6 linked regions of the Homo sapiens genome follow. The protein of the gene in region 4 interacts with the protein of the main gene of each other region in a biochemical or structural test. Each region holds a gene or a part of one and is shown on either strand. Other genes may lie near its edges.

Region 1 (3,500 bases), on a different chromosome or scaffold from region 4:
CCTGAGGTGGTCCTGAGAGTATCACAGGGGAGTTATCCTCTCCAAAACTGAGCTTTTGGATACGCTGAGCAACTGAAATTCCTAATTCTTTTTCTAAAATTTTGGGTGAAAAGGTTTGGAGATCACGCACACTATTGATACCCAGTGCTTCAAGACATTTGGCAGTTTTATAGCCAATACCTAAATAAAAAGAAATGCATACAATGTTAAAATAGCTTTTCTCCTTAAAACAAAGCTAATTAAAATATTATAAATATATCAATCTTATCTTTAAGTTCTATAATTTATACAGTAGTCCCCCCTTATCCACAGGGGATACATTCTAAGACCTTCAGTGGATGCCTGAAACCATGGACAGTATCAAACCCTATATATACAGTACTGTTTTTCCCATTACATATATACCTATGATAAAGTTTAATTTATAAATTAGGCACAGTAAGAGATTAACAATAATAATAAAACAGAACTATAACAATATACAATATACAAGTTATGTGAATGTGGTCTCTGCCTCTCTCTCTCAAAATATCTTATTATTTTCAGACCACAGTTGACTGCAGGTAATAGAAACTGTGAAAAGTGAAACTGCAGATAATGGGGGACTACTGTATTTTGCAAAGATCAAACCCCATTGCAAACTAGGTTGCTGTTCTTCCACTCAGGGCTCCTGAATTATATGCACCTCTTTGAAGTCCTCACAAAATGCAGTAAAATAAAATGAATACAGAGACAGCCAATAAATGCTGTCTTACTAAAACAAAAATTTTACCACCTGTTATGTAATATTCCAGAAATATTCAGAAATCATGATTATTATTAATATACAAAAAGGCTGCCACTAGAGCAATTAAAATAAATTAAGTGTACATATTAGGTAACCTAACTGATTCCTATACGCACCACCACACATTTATCCATAAGTCATATCTAACATTTACCATCCAGAATACAACTATGAGCCAGAAAGCAAACAAACAAAAAATCTTGCTAGCAAAACTGTCACAAAGTTCTTGCACTAAAATTCGGTCATACTTTATTCACAAGAGAAAACAGGCTATTTAATGTCTCCTTATTCTTTTCATTCAAAAACAGTAATTCCACAGTTATCTGGTTTTCTTGCACAGTAAAAGCAGTAAGTTGGAGGAGATGGCTATGTAGGGGGAACTATTAAAGTAGAGTGACAGATTTTTCACAGCAGAAAAAAAAGAAGGTTGGCAATTTGGCAATAAGTGAGAAAGGAGAAAGCCTGTTAAAAAAAAAAAAAAAAGATACAAGAACTCGAAAGTAAAGCCAAGTAAGAATGTTTTGCACCAGTATATAGTCCTCAGTTTATTACAACCTGACATTGTTCTTCAGAATGCACTACCAAAGTCATCCAAAAAACTTCAAATTATAGTTATACTATACTAAGGAAGGCAAGGCAGTGTATAATACATTTTGGAATCACGCAAGTATCAGTTAAAAATGTGAAGTATGACATCTAAGTTTCAGTGGTATTAGAAATTCACTTCCACAGAACTCTTTTATAACATCTTATTCCCTAGCAATACCACAGAAATGTAGTTCAACATATTGATGGCCTATAAAAACTTGGGTATTTAATCTTCAAAGATACAAACTTGCCCCATGACCTAAATAGGTCACCGAACTCCTCATGGAAATCAGTTTCCTAATCTTTAAAATGAGGACCTTGGCCTAGATGTTTTGGAAAGTCCATTGTAGCCTTAATATTTTATATGTAATCCCAAAAGAGTTAGTAAAAGACGAACTCCCCTCTCTAGAGGCAATGTACAGTATAAGAGTATGACCCAGGGACTGGAAATAAAGGACCATATGTTTCTAGGCTATAACTTTCATGACCATATTCTAACCATACAAAAGTAGATAAAATAAGAAAAGTACCTTCACATATTTCTTAATCCAAATTTGCTTGAGAAAACATTACAGTTTTTCTTAGTTTTTTCCAGGAACCAAGTATACACACACACACACATGCACACAAACTCACAGACAACTCTACCTAAGAATTAATTACATTGTATCTATAATTTTTTAAATTAAAAGAAATAAAATAAGACGTATATGTACTTTTCAAATATATTTGTCTTACCAGGTATTTCCTTTATGTGATTCAAACTATGAATAAGATGTTGACAACTTTCAGGTAATAAGACTGTTTGTTGATTTGGTTTAAAGACACCAGAAACTAATTTTGCCAACAGTTTATTAGAAGCCACTCCAGCACAGCCAGTGAGCCCCAACTGATTATACATGGCTTCCCGCATCTCTGCTGCAATCTGAGATCCAACAAGTAGTCTGATGTGCAAGACGTCAAGCAGGTTTATAGCTTTAAAAACAACAAATGTCATTCAAAGTCACAAGAAAAACCTTTTTCTTTTTCACAAAATAATTTTTAAAAGGTAGAGGGCTTAGTCTATATCCAACAACCACCACCACCACAACCACCACCATCATCACCTGGTATGGTTGTGATATTTGTCCCCTCCAAACCTCATGTTGTAATTTGATCCCCAGTGTTGGAGGTGGGGTCAAATGGGAGGTGTTGGGATCACAGGGGTGGATCCCTCATGAATAGATTAAAGCCCTCCCTCAGGGGTAAGTTTCTGACTGTATTAGTTCCAAAGACAGCTGGTTGTTAAAAGAGCCTGGCACCTCCCCCAGCCCTTGCTTCCTCTCTCACCATGTGATCTCTGCACACACTGGCTCCCTTTTGCCTTCCACCATGAGTGGAAACAGCCTGAGGCCCTCACCAGAGGCCTAACCTTGACTTTTCCAGCCACAAGAATCATGAACCAAATAAACCTTTTTTTCTTTATAAATTACCCAGTCTCAGGTATTCTGTTAAAGCAACACTAAATGGACTAAGAGATCACTGCCACCCTGTTATCCACTTGACTAATCTCTTTCATGCTTCATAGGAATACTGTAAACAAATTCAATAAGCAAATTCCAAGGGCCTGTGATAGTGACTGTGTAGTGGGAGTGCTTAATAATTAACACATTGTGAAAACTGATCTCATAAAAAAATTCCTACTGACATTGGCAAAACTTTTACTCATATTTACCCGTAAGTAGGCATAGAAGTATTATTATATAACAAGAAAGCTAACATTATACTTTAAAGATCTAAATCTTAACCACGCACTAGCAGTATATGCTGCTAGAAACAATCTCTGACCTGTACACAGTTTTAGAGCTCTTTTATGAAAAGTGTAAGAAAATTATATAAAAATAAATTTGCTTTAGGTGTAAAACAGTGTTGGAATGACATGAAACCATCCTAACCTCAAAGAGACTAACGCTAAAAGTATTTAGAGATGAAATGTCAGGATGTCTGCAATTTACTTCCAAATAGCTCATCAACCAACCAAGCAATCCATAGAGAGAACAAGAGAAAGCAAATGTGGCAAAACGATAACAACTGGTTTATCTACAAGAAAGGACATAATGGGCCAGGAGTAGTGGCTCATGCCTAT
Region 2 (3,500 bases), on a different chromosome or scaffold from region 4:
GGCTGAGGCATGAGAATGGCTTGAACCCGAGAGGCAGAGGTTACAGTGAGCCAAGATTGCGCCACTGCACTCCAGCCTGGGCAACAGAGCAAGACTGTGTCTCCAAAAACAAAAAACAAAAACAAAAAAAAACACACACACCGAAAAGGTATTTGATTAAGACACTGAGTAATTGTATGTTTATTAAAGACTGATAAAGAACACTTCATCTGCTGGGCGCGGTGGCTCATGCCTGTAATCCCAGCACTTTGGGAGGCCAAGGCGGGCAGATCACTTGAGGCCCGGAGTTCAAGACCACCCTGGCCAACATGGCGAAACCCCGTCTCTACTAAAAAATACAAAAAATTAGCCGGGCATGGTGGCTCACGCCTGTAATCCCAGCTACTCAGGAGGCCGAGGCAGGAGAATTGCTTGAACCTGGGAGGCGGAAGCTGCAGTGAGCTGAGATCGTGCCACTGCACTCCAGCCTGGGCGACAGAGCGAGACTCTGTCTCAAAAAAAAATAAAGAAAGAACACTTCATCTTCACTTAGATGACAACTCTGTAGTAAACACGGCATGATGCATTTAATTTAGATTGTCTATAGTGATAGATGTCCACCCCAAGAACTTTTAAACTTTATAATAGAAATGTTTAAACATATACAAAAGCAGAGGAACATTACGTCCAAGTCTCCATTATCCATTTTCAACAATTCATATATCATGTTTGATCTTATTTAATCTATACTCCAACTTACTCCCCCTCTTCGCAGATCATTTTGAAGCAAAGCCCAGACATATTCCATTCAAAAATACTTCAATATGTATCTCAGGGACAACACAAGAATGCTTTTTCCTCCCAACCTAACCACAATACCATTATCATACCTAACAGAAAAAAAAAAAAAAAAGACAGCAATTCCTTCATATTAAATATCAGCTGGGCGTGGTGGCTCATGCCTGTAATCCTAGCACTTTGAGAGGCCGAGGCAGGCAGACTGCCTGAGCTCAGGAGTTCAAGACCTGGGAACATGGCAAAGCCCTGTCTCCACTAAAAATACAAAAAGCTAGCCGGGCATGATGGCGCACGCCTGTAGTCCCACCTACTCCGGAGGCTGAGGCAAGTGAATCCCTTGAGCCTGGGAGGTGAAGGTTGCAGTGAGCCAAGATCACACCACTGCACTTCAGCCTGGGCGATCAAGTGAGACCCTGTCTCAAAAAAAAAAAAAAAAAAATCCATTCAGTGCTCCAATTTCTCATTAACTGAGTCAGGATCCAAATAAGACAGATATAATTTGTCAATGTGCCTCTCTGAGTTTCTTTTAATCCTTTAAAAGTTTGTGTGTTTATTTATTTATTTTTGGAGACGGAGTGTCACTCATTATTTATTTTTGGAGACGGAGTGTCACTCACTCTGTCGCCCAGGCTGGAGTGCAGTGGCACGATCTTGGCTCACCGCAACCTCCTCCTCCTCCCGGGTTCAGGCAATTCTCCTGCCTCAGCCTCCTAAGTAGCTGGGATTACAGGCACACGCCACCGCACCGCACCCAGCTGTTTTTTTTTTCTTTTGTATTTTGAGTAGAGATGGGGTTGCACCATGTTGGCCAGGCTGGTCTCGAACTCCTGACCTCAAGTGATCCACTCGCCTCAGCCTCCCAAAGTGCTGAGATTACAGGGGTGAGCTACCGCACCCGGCCTAAAAGTTTAATTTAAATCTCCATTTTTATTACAATTTGTTGAAGTAAGAAGGTCAGCTTCCCAAAGTTTGAATTTTGCTGACTGCATCCCTATGGTGTCCTTTAACATGTTTCCTGTCCCGTGTATATCTCCTGTAAATTGGTAGGTAGAACCAGAAGCTTAATTAGGTTTGTGTTCTTTTCTCTTTGTGCAAGACTACTTCACTGGTGAAATTGTTTACCACAAGGTACTTAATACCTGATTGTATCTCGTTTTTGTCACTGATAAATGCTTTAACTTTTTTTTTATTTTTTGAGATGGAGTCTTGCTCTGTCGCCCAGGCTGGAATGCAATGGTGCAATCTCAGCTCACTGCAACCTCCACCTCCCAGGTTCAAGAGATTCTCCTGCCTCCGCCTCCTGAGTAGCTGGGATTACAGGCTCCTGCTACCATGCCTGGCTAATTTTTGTATTTTTAGTAGAGATGGGGTTTTGCCATGTTGGCCAGGCTGGTCTCGAACTCCTGACCTCAGGTGATCCACCTGCCATGGCCTCCCGAAGTGCTGGGATTACAGGCGTGAGCCACCAAGCCCGGCCTAATAAATGCTTTCACTATTAATGGTGATATTCTATCATTCCTTCTTCACTTATTAGCTAGAATGCTTTTATAAAGAAAAGCTTCCCCCATCAACTATTGGGTTACTCTATGGTCTAGTTCATACAGGAGAGGGAAGACATATGCTTTATTCTTTTAATTTTTAAATTTAAAGTTGATATATAATTGTGTATATTTATGGCATACAATGTGATGGTTTGATCCACGTATACATTTTAGAAAGAGTCAACCAAGCTAATTAACATAGCCATCACCTCACTAACTTATTTTTTTGTGGTTGAGGACATTAAAAACCTATTCTTTTTGCAATTTTGAAATATACATTATTAACAACTGTGGTCACCATGCAGTACTACAGATCACTAAAACTTATTCCTCCAGTCTAACTGAAACTTTGATCAATATCTCCCTTTTCCCCATCCCTCCTCCACCCCCCCAAGCCTCACCACCCTTCTACTCTCTGTTTCTATGAAATCAACTTTTTTAGATTCCACAAATAGGTGACATAATACAGTATCTACTTTCTGTGCCTGGTTTATTTCACTTAGCATAAAGCACAGATAACAAAAGCAAAAATATGCAATGAGATTGCATCAAACTAAAAAGCTTCTGCACAGTAAAGGAAACAATTACACAGAGTGAATAGGCAACCCCGGATTAGGAGAAAGCATTTGCAAACTATACAACTGATAAAGGGTTAAGAAGCTCAACTCAGTAGCAAATACGCCCATTAAAATACGGGCAAAGGATCTAAACAGACATTTCTCAAAAGAAGAGGTACAGGCCAGACACAGTGGCTCATGTCTGTAATCCTATCACTTGGGGAGACCAAGGTGGGAGGATCACTTGAGCCCAGGAGTTCGAGGTTGCAGTGAGCTATTATGGCGCCACTGCACTCCAGCCTGGGCAACAGAGCAGGACCTCATCTCAAAAAAACAAAACAAAACAAAACAAAAAAAACAAATGGCAAGCAGATATATAAAAAATATGCTCAACATCACTAATCATCAAGGAAATGCAAAATAAAACCATGAGTTAGCATCTCACACTTGTTAGTATAGCTATCATCAAAAGGACGAATAATAACAAGTGTTAGTGAGGATGTAAAGAAAGGGAAGCCTTGTAACTGATGGGGGAAGTATAAATTGGCACAGCCATTTTGGGAACTAGTATAGAGGTTCCTCAAAAACTTTATTCTTCTCTTTTTAACCAGTTTTCCAAATTAAT
Region 3 (3,500 bases), on a different chromosome or scaffold from region 4:
AAGTATTGGCTCTGTCTGGATCCTCTGGTTGTGGAACTATCACAGCAGATGATGAACTGCAGCTTCTAAGAGGTTAGATAAGAAAACAGTTAATATCAGCCTGTCATAATTACAACTGTCATATATAATGCTTTCAAAAAATAAAGTATGAATATGTTCCTACTAAGTCCAGTATTAAACATAGGTTTTCAGAAGGTTCAAATCTGTAAAACGAAATAAAAGAACAAAACAAAAGCAGATGTGACTTTGGATACTAAAATATCTGATTAAAAGATAAGGGTGTTCTTTAGCCCAAAGATTACTGACACTAACACTCGTAATCACAAAACAAGAATTAAGATTACAAGAAAAACAACACTTAATTGTTCGGAACCAGAGGAAGCCAGAATATTGATGCCCTATTCACAAGCACAACTGCTTTGTCAAAGCTTAGAAGAAATAAGCATTAACATACGCACTTTCAAAATGAAGGTTAGAGATTTTTATATTGTAGTACTATCAAATCTTCAAAGTTAACATTGCTTTCCAAAGTCTCTTAACAATTAAATCTTAAGAATCACTGACTTAAACCTAAACTATGGCTCTGACAATAAAAACTAAAAAAAAGATTAAAAAATAAAAAGAAATAAAAAATGGCCATAATGGTTTGTTAAGCAAAGGGGGAATCTTACGGCTCTCCAAACAAAAATATCATTTTATCATTGACAAACTCACTGTCTAGGGTATACTGCACTAATCACTGCAAAGGTGATAAACTGTCAATCCTAAAAGTTACTTAGAGAATAATGAAAATATGTATCAAAACGTTTTGGAATAACCTCAAGTTTTAACATTATGCAATGATTTGAATGCAAATAATTCTGCCTTGAAAATGTATAAGCAACATGAAGATTTACCTTTTAGAAAGGTGTCCCCTTGACAGTTCAGAAGTAGTATTAGACTGCACTTTGGGTGCCTTAGAATTAGATTTTCTACTCTCAGGAGGGCTATATCCCTTATGTTTTGCCTGCCCTAAATGTGACCTGTCAGCAGAAAATCAAAACAGAAATCTATCAGGAAACTGAGATGCAAATACAATACTGAAAATGAAATATTTTTATATATTTCTTAAAGCTTCCCACAATTCATTGTTGACCCTACCCTTTTTCCAAATATTTATAAATTTTAATTATTATTCTACTAAATAATCTGGCAAAAAGAAATTGCCTCTCAGAACCACCCCCGCCCCGCAATACCGAAGAGTTTATTATCACCAGTAGTCATAATTGCACAGCGTTGTTAAGGTTGCTTAAGCAGTAACACATTTTTCAGCAATTTTAGTGCAGATATTCAAATATGCTACATTTTAACAAAAAGCAAATTTAGACTTTAGATCTAAACACACTTTTAATACATAATGTGACTGTAATGGCTTTAAAAGTTTACGGAAAAGACAATTGATGATTCCCACACTGATACCGATTTCCAATTTGTACTTAAAATTCAGGTAAACACAGCAAATGCAGAGACAGACGAACCAATTCTCAAACTGATTTTACACAGAAAATCATTTCAAGCACTAAACAATAAATAAACCTACATGAAATCAACATAGTGATACTTGCTAAAACTTTAAAGTACTTGTCAACAGAAAGAACACAAAAAAGTCCTGGAGAAATATGGAATTTACCACAAAAGTTCCAAAAAACATTCAAATAATTCCATGATTGATATGGTGCATCATATTTACAATAAATCAAATCCTTATGCCAGCACTATTCTAAAAGCAAGTTTGAGGAACATGAAAAAACTGTTTTCAGTTAGATTATTTTTTAGACCTTGGGGAATGGTTACATGAGATTTACATAAGCAATAAAAAACAAACACATGTTGATATCCAGAAAACTGCTGCCATTCGGGTGAGATATTAATGTAACAAATGCAATTTATGTAATTCATAGCTGATATCCACTTTCCACATAAGAGCATATACCAATGAAAATCTAGAAAAAAGTTTCATTAATACCAAATTTACTTGTTAAAAAAAAGTTTAAGGCTTTTATTCCAAACACCATCTCAAAAGAACTTAGAAATGAGTCACTGAAAATCTCACAAAATAATTCTAACTCAATCTGTAAGGATGCCATAAATTTCTTAAGATATCATACAAGTACAACCATCTGTTCCAAAAGAGGACCTAAGGTTTCTCTTTTCTGTATCACTTCTTCTTCCATCTTTCCAGAATTCATGAAAAGAGTCTTAAAAGAAGGTAAGAAATTAGCTTCTTAAGAAAGGAAATAGTTCCTGGATCCCTCATATCATTTTTGTTTTTAAGGTTCTAATCTGAAAGTAATAATATGTTCTAAAGACTTATTAGAATAGATGAATTTCTTAAAAAAAAATAACAAAAAAACAAAACTCTAGGTGAGCCTTTCAAGTGTTATTAGTCTTCACTTTTAGTAATGAAAGGACACATATACTTCAAGAAGCATATTTTCTAAAGTTGTAGCTAAGCTGAACTTTGTAAGATTTTTTATACATTGTGTTTTTGTTGTTGTTGTTGTTATTTTTTATTTTTTGGTGTTTCAGACAGGGTTTTGCTCTATCGCCCAGGCTGGAGTGCAGCGACACTATCTCGGCTCACTGCAACCTCCGCCTCCCAGGATCATGTGATTTTCCTGCCTTGTATATATTGTGATTTAATTTTAATTTTTCCTAGATATTCTCCCATTGCAGACTAAAATTTTGCTTTAACCAATGAGTTTATTAGAGATTTAATTTCTAAGAGTTGCTTTTGTTTTTGTTATATTTCTACTAACAGATCTCAGAGTTCAACTCTTTTTTCTTCAGAAATGAGACTATTTTTCAAATCATTCCATAGTTATTCTAAAAAAGAGGTGTAACGTTCTGTTTTTGGGGTGTGGAATTTAACAGCTACAGGAAATATAAATTATGTCATTCAGGTCCTCTACATTCTTATTTTCTTAAAGATCGTTGCAGACTGATGTTTTAATTAAATCACGTTTTCTACTTTATTTCATTTTAAAATTTAAAATATAGCTTGTTGCATTCCTTGATAATTAAACAACTCATTCTGAAAGAAAACTACATACATTCAAAGCTAGACAACTTTGTGAAAAATAAATGCCCAAAACAATTAAAAATTATGATTCATTCCATTTGTCATCAGAAACCGGCCCATATGAAACTAAAGGTGAGGTCTGGGGCAGCAGCCCTCCTCTTTTTAACTCAAATAAATTGTTCTGTTGACTTTTATATAGCTTATGTTAGATCCACCTAATTCTACTCCTGTGTTATTTCTCATGCCCTTACTAATACCTTCAATGAACTTAAGAACTTAGCATGTAAACTCTCTATATTATACCACAAAAAGTAAACAGTATTCAAATCATTTAGAAAACCAAGGCTCACAAAACTGGCTTAAATTCAGCAATGCCCAGCAGGGCACGGTGGCTCATGCCTGTAATCCCAGCACTTTGGGAGACAGAGGCGGATGTGTC
Region 4 (4,298 bases):
CGTGGGCTGCACAACCTCTGTGCCTATTGTACCCACATTCTCAGTCTCTACTTCCCCTGGGATGGAGGTAAGGGGCAGATGGGAGGGGCAGCCCTGGGGAGAGTGGGCAGGGATCCAAGAACTAGTTCTCCTAACACACCTTCCTTCCTTGACCCTCAGCTGAGGTACCACCGCAACGCCAGACACCAGCAGGCCCAGAGACTGAGGAGGAGCCATACCGGCGCCGGAACCAGATCCTATCTGTGCTGGCAGGACTGGCAGCCATGGTGGGCTACGCCTTGCTCAGCGGCATTGTCTCCATCCAGCGGGCAACGCCTGCTCGGGCCCCAGGCACCCGGACCCTGGGCATGGCTGAGGAGGATGAAGAGGAATGATTTGTCCTCACGCTCCCAAGACTGGTTTTTCTACTCTCATGCATTCCAGAGGCCCCCGTGCCTCCTCGTTGTTGGTACAGCCGGACACGGGGTGCTGCCACCCAGAATAAAGCCACTCACACTGACTGGGCTCAAACATTTTCTCCTTTAAGAGCTGCCATTTTTCCTGGCTGGTGCCATAGGAATCATCTGGGTGCCTGGGCACACCCGCTGCTGCTTTAAGGCTTCCGCCCTGATGCTGACACTGCTGCTCCACGGGCCCAGTTCTGCATCTCCAGGAAAGACAAACAGTCTCCAGTTTTGGGCCCAGCTTTCCTAGTCTCTTCTTTTCCTTACCCTCAGCCCTGATCTTGTGTTTGTACGGACAGTGAGCTCACCCTAGGCCTGGACCCAGGCCCAGTTTCCAAAGCAAGCAGCACACAGCGCATGTTCACATAAGCATGGGGGCTGGGGGGACACTGGGGCTTACTGATCTTTTTCTAGGGGCCTCCAGCCCCTGGCACCACCTAGAGGGGAAAGTGAGTCACCCAAACCATTGCCCCTGGGCTTACGTCGCTGTAAGCTCACACTGGCCCTGCTGTGCCCTCTTTAGTCACAGACAGCGTGTGAGCTGACTCTGTCCCTTTAATGCCCAGGCTGAGCCCAGTGCCTCCTTGAGTATCTGCTCCATCACTGGCGACGCCACAGGTAGGTGTGAATGGAGTAGCCAGGTGAGATTGTCTCCAGGAAGCCCACAGCAGGATCCTTGATGGTAAGAGGCACATCCTTAGAGGAGCTAGGGAGCAGGGAGGAGAAGCTGAGAGTGTGATCCTGCCAAGGCCCCCAACGCTGTCTTCAGCCCACTTCCCAGACCTCACCATTGCCCTCACCGGTTTAGCACGACCACAACAGCAGAGCCATCGGGATGCATCAGTGCCACTGCGTCCAGGTCGTTCTTCTGACTGGCAACCAGCCCCACTCTCTGGGAGCCCTCAGGAATGAACTTGCTGAATGTGGGAACAGATGGTCAGAGTCCCTCGGGGTACCTCCCATGAAACCCTCATCTAAGAAGTCACCCACCCACGGACCCACCCCATAACTCCTGCAGAGGCTCTGCCCTGGCTCTCTAGGCCTGGAGCCATGCTGCTGGGCACTGACCCTGCTTTTCTGCATCGCAGTCCAGCCTCAGGCATTGGGGTTTTCTGTTGCTACCTAGTCACTTCCTGCCTCCATGGTGCAAAAGGGGATGGGTGTGCCTCTTCCGAGGTTCCACCCTGAACACCTTCCTGCTCCCTCGTGGTGTAGAGTGATGTAAGCCATCCGATGTAGGAGATGATAGGCCTGGTATGGAATGGGGGTGCCCGCCCTCCACTCACCTGAAGTGGCCAAGGTGGTAGAACATGGGCTGTTTGTAAAACGTGTCCTTGGTGATGTCTACAATGATGGGACTGTCGACAAAGTTACGCACCCAATTGGGTCCTCCTTCGGGGTTCAGGGCAAGGTTCCAGTCGGTCCAGCCGACCACATGGTACAGGAGGTTCTAGGGTAAGGACAAAGGCAAAGAGACAAAGGCGCAACACTGGGGGTCCCCAGAGAGTGTAGGTAAGGGTCACATGTGGGAGAGGCAGCTGTGGGTAGGTCAGCCCTGTGAGGGGCACATTCCTTAGTAGCTAAGGAGTTGGGGGTGTGAAGATCCAGGCATCTCAAGGGGAGCTGAGAAGTCTGAGGCAGCTGCAAGTGCCTCAGTAGTTGCAAAAGGGGCAATGAGGTGTGCAGACCTGTGAAGGAAAGGGAAGATAGGGAATCATGGTTCCCCAGAGTTGCTCAAAAGGGCAGGCTAGCTGGGGAAAGCTGGACAGGAAGGGCTTCTGTCAGTCTTTGGTGAAACTAGTAAGAGGTCTGAGGTCTGCTTTGCAGGAAGGGAGACTGGGGTGGCTTACCGTGATGATGCTGTGGCTGTACTGCATCCCTCGATCCCAGGAGCCTAGCCGCACACTCTGCTCCCAGAACTTGGAGCCCACACAGGCCTCTGAGGCAAAGAGCATGGTGTTGGGGAACAGGCGGTGTGTCTCCCCTAGGGTGGCTTTGGCTGGAGCCAGAAAGTCCAGGTACCAATGTACAGCAATGCCATGAACATATTTAGCTGCTTCTGGGTCTGTCAGTACCTGCAAAGGAAGAGCAACTGATCCTGGACCTTGCACACAGGCTTCTGGAACTTCTAGTTCCTGTTGTAGGAATCCTGGAGTTGGGTGACGGGAAGAATGCAACTAGAGAGGTTTGGGGAGATTTTTTTTTGTTTTTGAGACAGGATGTCACTCTGTCACTCGGGCTGGAGTACAGTGGCGCAATCACGACTCACTGCAGCCTTGACTTCCTAGGGTCAACTGATCCTCCCACATTAGCCTCCTGAGTAGCTGGGACTACACGGGTGCCACACCCAGCTAATTTGTGTGTGTATGTGTGTGTATGTATGTGTGTGTGTGTATATATATATACATATAAACACATATATATGTATATACACATACATACATGAACCACCACCCCCAGCCTAGATAGTTTTGTTTTGTTTTGTTTCGAGATGGAGTCTCGCTCAGCCTCCCAGGCTGGAGTGCAGTGGCGCGATCTCGGCTCACCGCAACCACCATCTCCCGGGTTCAACTGATTCTCCCTTCTCAGCCTCCTGAGTAGCTGGGATTACAGACACCCACCATCATGCCCAGATAATTTTTTTTTTTTGTATTTTAGTAGACACAGGGTTTCAACACGTTGGCCAGGGTGGTCTTAAACTCCTGACCTCAGGTGATCACCCGCCTCGGCTTCCCAAAGTGCTGGGTTTGCATGAGTGAGCCACCTCGCCCAGCCCCTAGAAAGGTTTCAAGCGACAACTGTGGGATCCATGGCACCCTGGAGGTCCAGGGGAATGGTGCTCTAGGAATCCATAGTTGGGTAGAGAAATCGCTCTAAGTTTGGGAGCCAGTCATTTGGATGCTGGATTTGAAGGTCACTGGAGCACCATGGAGGTCCAGGCCTTACCACCTTTGCCCAGTGGGGCAGCAGCAAGCGTTGGTCATCCAGCATGAGTAGGCGGACATTGTGGTGAGTACTGTTGGCGAGGGTAGGACCTAGGTCACGGGCAATGAAGTCTCGCTGATGTTCAGGGGTGAAGCCCAGGCACTGGAAGGGGTATCCACTCAACAGCCCAGCAGAAGGCTCATTTTCAGCTGTCACTGCCCAGAACTGTAACTTGTGCTCAGCATAGGCATCCAGGAACCTGGCAAGAGAAAGGTCATGAATGATCCGGCCAAGAAAGTGGACCAGACCAGCTGGGTGTGGTGGCTCACACCTGTAATCCCAGCACTTTGGGAAGCCGAGGCAGGTGGATCACTTGAGTTCAGGAGTTCGAGAACAGCCTGGCGAAACCCCGTCTCTACTAAAAATAGAAAAATCAGCTGGGCCTGGTGGCAGGCGCCTATAATCCCAGCTACTTGGAAGGCTGAGGCAGGAGAATTGCTTGAACTCAGGAGGCAGAGGTTACAGTGAGTGAAGATGGCGCCACAGCACTCCAGCCTGGGTGACAGAGAGAGAGACTCCTTCTCAAAAAAAAAAAAAAGAAGAAAAATAAAAAGAAAGTGGGCCAGACCGAGAGAACAGGAAGCCTGATGGAGTGGGCAAGATTGACAGGCCCAAGGCTGAAAGGCCCAGAAGGTAGAAAGGTGAGCTGAGGACAGGCAGATCTGGAAGTGGAACTAGGTTGAGGGTTGGGACACAGATCAGCATGGCTAAATGGGAGGCCAGTCCTGATCCCACATCCTTGCTGATCCCTTACTTCACAAAGTATCTGGCCCAGGTCTGGTGGTAGATGTCTCCGGGCTGTCCCTTGAGTGACCCCTTCCCATTCACCGCTCCATTGGTCTTGAGCCAAGTGGGTGATGTCCAGGGGCT
Region 5 (3,500 bases), on a different chromosome or scaffold from region 4:
AATAATCTATGAAGCGCTCTGATATTTATTCATTCAACAAATATTTTTGAGTACCTATATGTGTTGGACATTATCCTAGACATAGTGACAAACTAAAATATCAAATCAGACATGTTATACCTTTTCACAAAACCTTAAACTCCGTAAGGTACTCTAAATATACCAGTCTGCCTACCCATGATTGAATCTTTGCATGTTGAAATAGCCTTTGGTCAAAGACAATAAATTTTTTTATTGATGTAATGTAGATTTTTTTCCCAATGATCACAGAATCTTTGACAATCATTTTAACTACTTAAGACATGGATGATGGCTTTTTATACTTCCAATATAGGGACAACCTAACAGATGCTGAGAATGGCAACATTCAACTGCAAGCACAACGTGCATTTACCACCAGGCGGCAGATATCCGAGGAAACAGAAAGTGTTGACAACCGAGAGTCTTCCGAGGTATAAGTAGTTTCCTAGTTCTCCTTGAAAGACACATGCTATAGCAATAAAGTATGTGTGGCTCAAGCTTATTCTGTTCATTTTAGAACTGGGAAATTATAAGAGAAGATGAAGCCACCATGTATAGCAACCAGGCCTTCCCATCACCTCCACCGTCAAGTAACTTGGATGTTCCAACTCATCTTGCAGAAGAATTGAATGCCAGACTCACCATTTTTGGAAATTCAGCCGTGAGCCAGCCAGCATCGAGCTCAGTAAGATGCTCTTAGATTTTGTTACGGCTTCAGTAGTTTATATTATGCATATTATACTATTCAACAACTAACTTTTATGTAAAATTTTGTCTTAAATGCAATAATATGTAATAATACATTAGGGACCTTGGGACTTTACAACATGGTCATTTTTCAAATATCCTCATTAGTAGTATGGACCAGAGTCATGGCATCCAAATTTCCATTATGTCAGTGCCCTCCAGTCAAAAATCACTAGGGACACATTTGTCATTGAACAAGTTGGGTTTATTATTCATTTCAGCAAGGGAGAACACGCACCATTGGTGTTTTGGTAGCAGAATGTTAGAAAAGACTTCAGGGATTTGGGCTCCTGTTAGGTGATTTTGAAGAGGGTTTTAGGAAGCAGGACTTTGCTCTACATGAGATGCTGTTGGGAAGCAGGGATAATTCTATGATTTTGTATCTCAAATCTTATCTGTAGTGAGGCTAAAGCTATGATTAGCAAAGTAGAACAGTCACTCACATTTGCCAGGATGGGGAAATGTTTGGTATTTTGTGGCTTGGACAATGTTCATGTTTTGTCTATATTCAGCCACGATTACAGAGTGGTCTTGATTTTGTCTTGATCTTACCTATGAGTGCCAGGCCAGCTCTTGGATGTTAGGGACTGCTTTTCTCTCTCCCAGTTATGCTGAAGTTGGTTTTTTGTTTGCTTGTTTGTTTGTTTGTTTTGAGACATCTCACTCTGTCACCTAGACTGGAGTGCAGTGGTGCTATCTCGGCTTACTGCAAACTCCGTCTCCAGCTTCAGGCGATTCTCATGCCTCAGCCTCCTGAATAGCTGAGATTACAGGCGCACACCACCACGCCCAGCTAATTTTTGTATTTTTAGTAGAGATGGAGGAGTTTCACCCTGTTGGCCAGGCTAGTCTTGAACTCCTGGCCTCAAGTGATCCACCTGCCTCAGACTCCCAAAGTGCTGGGATTACAGGCATGAGCCACTGCTTCTGGCCTGAAGTTTTAACATTATATCACAGATGTCACCAACAGGTATATATGAATAAGAACTGATATACTTTGACTAAACAAGGAGATAGATGACATTTTCACTTCAGCCACCACTGTAAAAACTGTTGTCCATAGGGTTCAGAATAAAGTATCCCAGCATATGCTTCCACGATGAGAACTTCATAGCTAGCTGTCTAATATGTATCATCAAGGGAGATTGAGTAGAAGACAAAGATTATTCTCTGAGGATGCTATTTGTCATTTCCAGTTGAGGTTTCCCTGCCTTTCATTTAGTTAGTAAATATTTAATGAGAGCTGATCACATATATGCAGAGTACTATATGCTAGTTACTGAGGATACATCAGTCAATAAAATTAACAATATCTCCTGCCTTCATGGGACTTACATTCTAGTGCAGAGGAAAGCAAACTACAACCGGTGGGCCAAATCAGCAGCTGCCTGTTATGAATAATTACCATTGGAATACAGCCACATCATTTGTTTTGGTATTGCCCATCTCTGCTTTCACACGACATCATCTGAATAAAGTAGTTACAGCAGCAACCATATGGCCCACAGCCAGTATTTACTGTCTGGATCTTAACAGGAAATGTGTGCTAACCTCTGCTCTAGCATCTTCTTCAAGAAGCTTCACAGTAGATAGTTGTACGTGAATATGAATATCTGCCAGTAAATCCGCCTGCCTGCCTCCTGCCCTTCCTTTCTTCCATTTGTCTGTTCTGTCTTCCATTCATTTCATTTTTTCACAGGGGAGTGGGACAGGTCAGTCAAAGACCTAAACTACATTAGGCCAGGCGTGGTGGCTCACGCCTGTAATCCCAGCACTTTGGGAGGCTGGGATTATAGATGGGTTGAAGTCAGGAGTTCAAGACCAGCCTGGGCAACATGGCGAAACCTTGTCACTACTAAAAATACAAAAATTAGCTCGGTGTGGTGGTGCACACCTGTAATCCCAGCTACTTGGGAGGCTGAGATTGGAAGAATGGCTTGAACCCAAGAGGCAGAGGTTGCAGTGAGCCGAGATTGCACCATTGCACTTCAGCTTGGGTGACAGAGTGAAACTCCGTCTCAAGAAAAAAAAAAGAATAAACCATATTGATTTGCTGATGATAAATCACATACGATCCCATTCCCCTTCTTCCTGGTATTTTTTTTACTTAAAGTAATACATGGCAACCATATAGTGTAATACTATGCAGCCATTGAAGAGAACAAGGTGGGCTCGAGTGTATATGTTGGATGGAACAATCCCTAAGAGATGCTGGTAAATGAAAAACAGCAAGGTACAGAACAGTGTGTTTGTTACACCAGAATTTATGTAAATTATTTAAATGCAGAGCATAAATATGTGTATAATTTACTCGAGGACTAAACAGGAAACTAATAACTTTGCTTGCCTCTGAAGAGAGGCAAAGAATGAGCAGGATATATATTGTTTGTACCTTTTGTTTTTTTGAGATAGGGTCTCACTCTGTCGCCCAGGCTGGAGTGCAGTAGCATGATCATAGCCCACTGCAACCTCAAATTTCTGGGCTCAAGGGATTCTCCCACCTCAGCCTCTGGAGTAGCTGGTACTACAGGCACATGCCATTGTACCCCTGCTAATTTTTTTAAAAAATTTTTGTAAAGACTTGGTATAGTATTGTTTCCCAGGCTCCTTTTGAATTTTATAACATGTATGAGTGTTACCTATTTTAAAAAATATTTTTAAAGCACTGTATGGTTATGGTTACAAATTGAGATTGTATTTAGGTATATAAAATAAAATTTAAGACTGGGCAT
Region 6 (3,500 bases), on a different chromosome or scaffold from region 4:
GTTTTGAGGAAGTGCTTGGGGAAGTGATATAGTGGCTGGAAAAGTACTACTGGTGTCCAGTCTATTCCAAATGACTGTGCAATCTTGGACTACCCACTTCCTCTGTAGATTTCTGTTTCCTCATCTCTACAATCAGAAGATTGATCTGAACAGAGGGTCTGTCAATGGACTTCCCATTAAGCTCTTTGATGTGCGTATGTGAGTGCGCATTTTTCTGAAGCTAAGAGGGTCTATAGCTTCTATTAGCCCGTGAAAAGGGTCGGAGACACAAAACTGATTAATTGCCTGTGTACTAATTTAATCTGAGGTCCCTCTTAACTTGTGAAATCTTACGAAGCTATAAATAGAATTAAAATTTTAGATGGAAACCAGGAATTAATATAATTATTATCCCTAATAAGATTATTTGAAAAGCATATTTTGTACAAAGGGGTACCACCATGACCAACCATGCATTCAAACATTAGCTGAAGAACTTCACTAGAAGCCCAGTAAGGATTTGCCATCATTAGCATCCATTGCACCAGACACTAGACATGTAAGTACATGTAGTAAATCTAAATATATCACAGATATTTTTGTTCTGCCTTTTTATTATCAGAGTTTTAATGGGCTATCAAGGTAAGGCTGCTACTTAGGATTACATGAAGTGGAAACAACCCAGAATAGTTTGCCAGCAAATAAAACTTCTTTCTCACAATTTTCAAGATATTCATCCAAAATCATTTTGATTGTAACTTTTGGATAGCTGAATAGCACTGTTCTTATACTAAGCATATGATTATAAAAGACCCAGAAATGAAAGTTGTTGTGCTTACTCACTTCCTTCCCTCCTTAATTTAATAAATGTTTGTTAATTGTCTACTGTAAGTTGGAAACTCTCCCAGACACTTGTGAAATATCAATGAACAAAATAAATATATTTCACTCTCATGGTGCCTACATTCTAGAAGGGAGAAATAAAATAAAAATCATACATTAAAGTAAGCACATTATGTATTATATTTAAAGGTGAATAACACTTTGGCAAAGAAAGGAAAAAGAAAGAAAAGGAAAGAAGGAAGGAAGGAAGCAAGAAAGAAAAAAGAGAAAGAAAGAAAGGGAGGAAGGAAGGGAGGGAGAGAGGGAGGAAGGAAGGAAGGGAGAAAGGAAGGAAGGAAGGGAAAAGAAAGAAAGGAAAGAGAGAAAGAAGGAAAGAAAGAAAGAAAAAGAAAAAGAAAGAAAGAAGGAAAAAAAGTAGGGAGACTGGGAATACCAGAGGTGAGAAGAATGGCTCCAATTTTATATAGATTAGGGCAGGCCTCCCCAAGAACGTGTCAGGGCAAGGGTATGCTTGATTTATTCAAGAAATAGCAAGGAGGTCATTGTGGCAGGGAAAAAGCAAAAATTATTTTGCTGTTGTAGTGGTGATGTTTGTGAAACTTCAACGTTGTTGACACCTCATACTGTATTAGTTCCATATTTAAAATGAAAGTTATAATATCTTTGGTATAATCTTATTCGTGTCCCATGTTTGTCAAAAAAATTCAGTCAAAATTCTTCTCAGAATTTTAAAATCTACCTCAAAACTATATCTCTGGTTGGTATGTATTTTAAGTCTCTCATTTCCCACAAATATGTATTTGGCAATGAACTGTTATGTAATATGCAGATATGCCATTTAATAAGAGATGATGTCACTATAAAGAAATAAGTAAAAGAACTTTATTTTGGAAATTAGGAAATTAGGCACAAAGGGATTTGTTACTCCAAGGAAGAGAAATTCCAAGACTTACAATTAACATGAAAGCCCTCATTCTTTCTGAAATGTCACTGTTCCTTTGGCATTTTACTACATTTTTTGTTTCATTAACTTTCTTCCAGAAATTGAAACAATCATAATAATTATAAAATTTGCATGGCATTTATCTGGGTTAATGCCTGAAACAAGCAAGACCAATATAAAGGTAGCACTTTTTCACAAGGGGAGGGTCAGGTAGCCGTTCCCCACAGTAAGTATCTTGCTCCTGCCTCCAGGCCTCACATGAAAATGAACCGTAATCTCACCAGCTTATAAATGTAACACAAAACGTACACAGCCATACCTTGCCCAACTGGTCCTTTTTGACAAAGCCAGTGGCTGCTGCAATGCTCCCTGCTCCCTCCACTGTCTTCTGGGCTACTGCTGTCACACCCGTCACCACTGCTCCTCCAACATTTGTCACTTGCTCTTTGGTCTTCTCAGCCACTGGTACAAATAAAGAGCAACAACAGATTAAAGGGTGGTAGAATAACAGTGACTTAAAATCATTCCACTTCCACTAGCCATCGGCTTCCATACACCTGTATCTACACATGCCATAGATAACTGAGTGGTCAGAAGAAACAAAAGCCACCAAGATGTCCAAGTGAGTGTGGTTCAACCAAACATTGAATCTTGGCTAAGATATTTTGGCTAAAGTCATGCAGTATTAAAAAGTGCTTCAAGTTTAACGATCAGGAATGTAAAGCCATGAGTGATTTGGATTTGGTTTATACTATGGAAAGTTTACAGAAAGCAATTCTTACAGGTGCAGTTATATTTGAACCAGACTCAGCATGAATATTTCTTTATTTCAATTCAGTGCCAATCCTTTGATCTCACTCAGCAAGTTAATTTCCACCACACCTTCTAAGCAACACAATACATACTTCTATTTATTTATTTATTTGAGATGGAGTTTCATTCTTGTTGTTCAGGCTGGAATGCAATGGCACAATCTCAGCTCACAGCAACCTCCGCCTCCTGAGTTCAAGCTATTCTCCTGCCTCAGTCTCCCGAGTAGCTGGGATTACAGGTGCCCACAACCACACCTGGCTAATTATTATTATTATTATTATTTGTATTTTTAGTAGAAACAGGGTTTCATCATGTTGGCCAGGCCGGTCTCGAACTCCTAACCTCAGGTGATCCACCCGCCTTAGCCTCCCAAAGTGCTAGGATTATAGGCATGATCCACCGCACCCAGCCCCTACTTATTATCTACGTGTTCAGACGTGGTATTATCACATATGTACGAATAACAGCATAAGAAACGGTTGTGAAGGAACTTGGATCTTTTTATAGAACTTCAGGTAGTGAAACAAAGGGTTCTTAAAAAGCTAAATTTGCAGTAATTTTAATAGGAGCACAGGAGCTAGACAGTATGAAAATGAAGAGGCTATTGAGCACCCTTACAATTTCTTTTCATAAAACAAAATGAGATACGGTCATTCAGTAGATTTATTAAAATAAGTTAACATTTTTGAGAAGACAGTGTAAATAGTTTGAATTGAGTTTACAAGCAGAAGTTTAATTTCATGTCAAAAACTTTCTTGTTCAGTTAAATAAGCCAGAAACAGAAAGGCAAACAACCACATGATCTCACTCATGTGGAATCTAAAGAAAAAGAAAAGTTGATATCATAGAAGCAGAGAGGAGAACAGTGGAGGAGAGTGGAGGATGGGGACACTCATCTAAGGAAATGAAGGCACATTTTCTT

The links.
Region 1: the proteins of GBA1 (region 4) and POLI form a complex in vitro, tested with the Homo sapiens proteins (one large-scale study listed by BioGRID).
Region 2: the proteins of GBA1 (region 4) and OGT form a complex in vitro, tested with the Homo sapiens proteins (one large-scale study listed by BioGRID).
Region 3: the proteins of GBA1 (region 4) and TRIP12 form a complex in vitro, tested with the Homo sapiens proteins (one study listed by BioGRID).
Region 5: of the proteins of GBA1 (region 4) and NEDD4, one has a biochemical effect on the other in vitro, tested with the Homo sapiens proteins (one large-scale study listed by BioGRID).
Region 6: the proteins of GBA1 (region 4) and SNCA form a complex in vitro, tested with the Homo sapiens proteins (2 studies listed by BioGRID).

Annotation. Positions count from the first base shown.
Region 1 is NC_000018.10:54,279,517-54,283,016, reverse strand, and holds part of POLI (DNA polymerase iota isoform a (long)), read right to left. Parts: intron 2,351-3,500; coding exon 2,114-2,350; intron 181-2,113; coding exon 2-180; intron 1-1. UniProt on the Homo sapiens protein: Error-prone DNA polymerase specifically involved in DNA repair. Plays an important role in translesion synthesis, where the normal high-fidelity DNA polymerases cannot proceed and DNA synthesis stalls. Favors Hoogsteen base-pairing in the active site.
Region 2 is NC_000023.11:71,550,104-71,553,603, reverse strand, and holds part of OGT (UDP-N-acetylglucosamine--peptide N-acetylglucosaminyltransferase 110 kDa subunit), read right to left. Parts: intron 1-3,500. UniProt on the Homo sapiens protein: Catalyzes the transfer of a single N-acetylglucosamine from UDP-GlcNAc to a serine or threonine residue in cytoplasmic and nuclear proteins resulting in their modification with a beta-linked N-acetylglucosamine (O-GlcNAc).
Region 3 is NC_000002.12:229,859,510-229,863,009, forward strand, and holds part of TRIP12 (E3 ubiquitin-protein ligase TRIP12), read right to left. Parts: intron 1,023-3,500; coding exon 897-1,022; intron 66-896; coding exon 1-65. UniProt on the Homo sapiens protein: E3 ubiquitin-protein ligase involved in ubiquitin fusion degradation (UFD) pathway and regulation of DNA repair.
Region 4 is NC_000001.11:155,233,952-155,238,249, forward strand, and holds the end of GBA1 (lysosomal acid glucosylceramidase isoform 1 precursor), read right to left. Parts: coding exon 4,183-4,298; intron 3,628-4,182; coding exon 3,390-3,627; intron 2,519-3,389; coding exon 2,294-2,518; intron 1,894-2,293; coding exon 1,730-1,893; intron 1,361-1,729; coding exon 1,244-1,360; intron 1,150-1,243; coding exon 1,044-1,149; 3' UTR 501-1,043; downstream 1-500. UniProt on the Homo sapiens protein: Glucosylceramidase that catalyzes, within the lysosomal compartment, the hydrolysis of glucosylceramides/GlcCers (such as beta-D-glucosyl-(1<->1')-N-acylsphing-4-enine) into free ceramides (such as N-acylsphing-4-enine) and glucose.
Region 5 is NC_000015.10:55,857,613-55,861,112, reverse strand, and holds part of NEDD4 (E3 ubiquitin-protein ligase NEDD4), read left to right. Parts: intron 1-334; coding exon 335-452; intron 453-538; coding exon 539-706; intron 707-3,500. UniProt on the Homo sapiens protein: E3 ubiquitin-protein ligase which accepts ubiquitin from an E2 ubiquitin-conjugating enzyme in the form of a thioester and then directly transfers the ubiquitin to targeted substrates. Specifically ubiquitinates 'Lys-63' in target proteins.
Region 6 is NC_000004.12:89,820,162-89,823,661, forward strand, and holds part of SNCA (alpha-synuclein), read right to left. Parts: intron 2,228-3,500; coding exon 2,085-2,227; intron 1-2,084. UniProt on the Homo sapiens protein: Neuronal protein that plays several roles in synaptic activity such as regulation of synaptic vesicle trafficking and subsequent neurotransmitter release.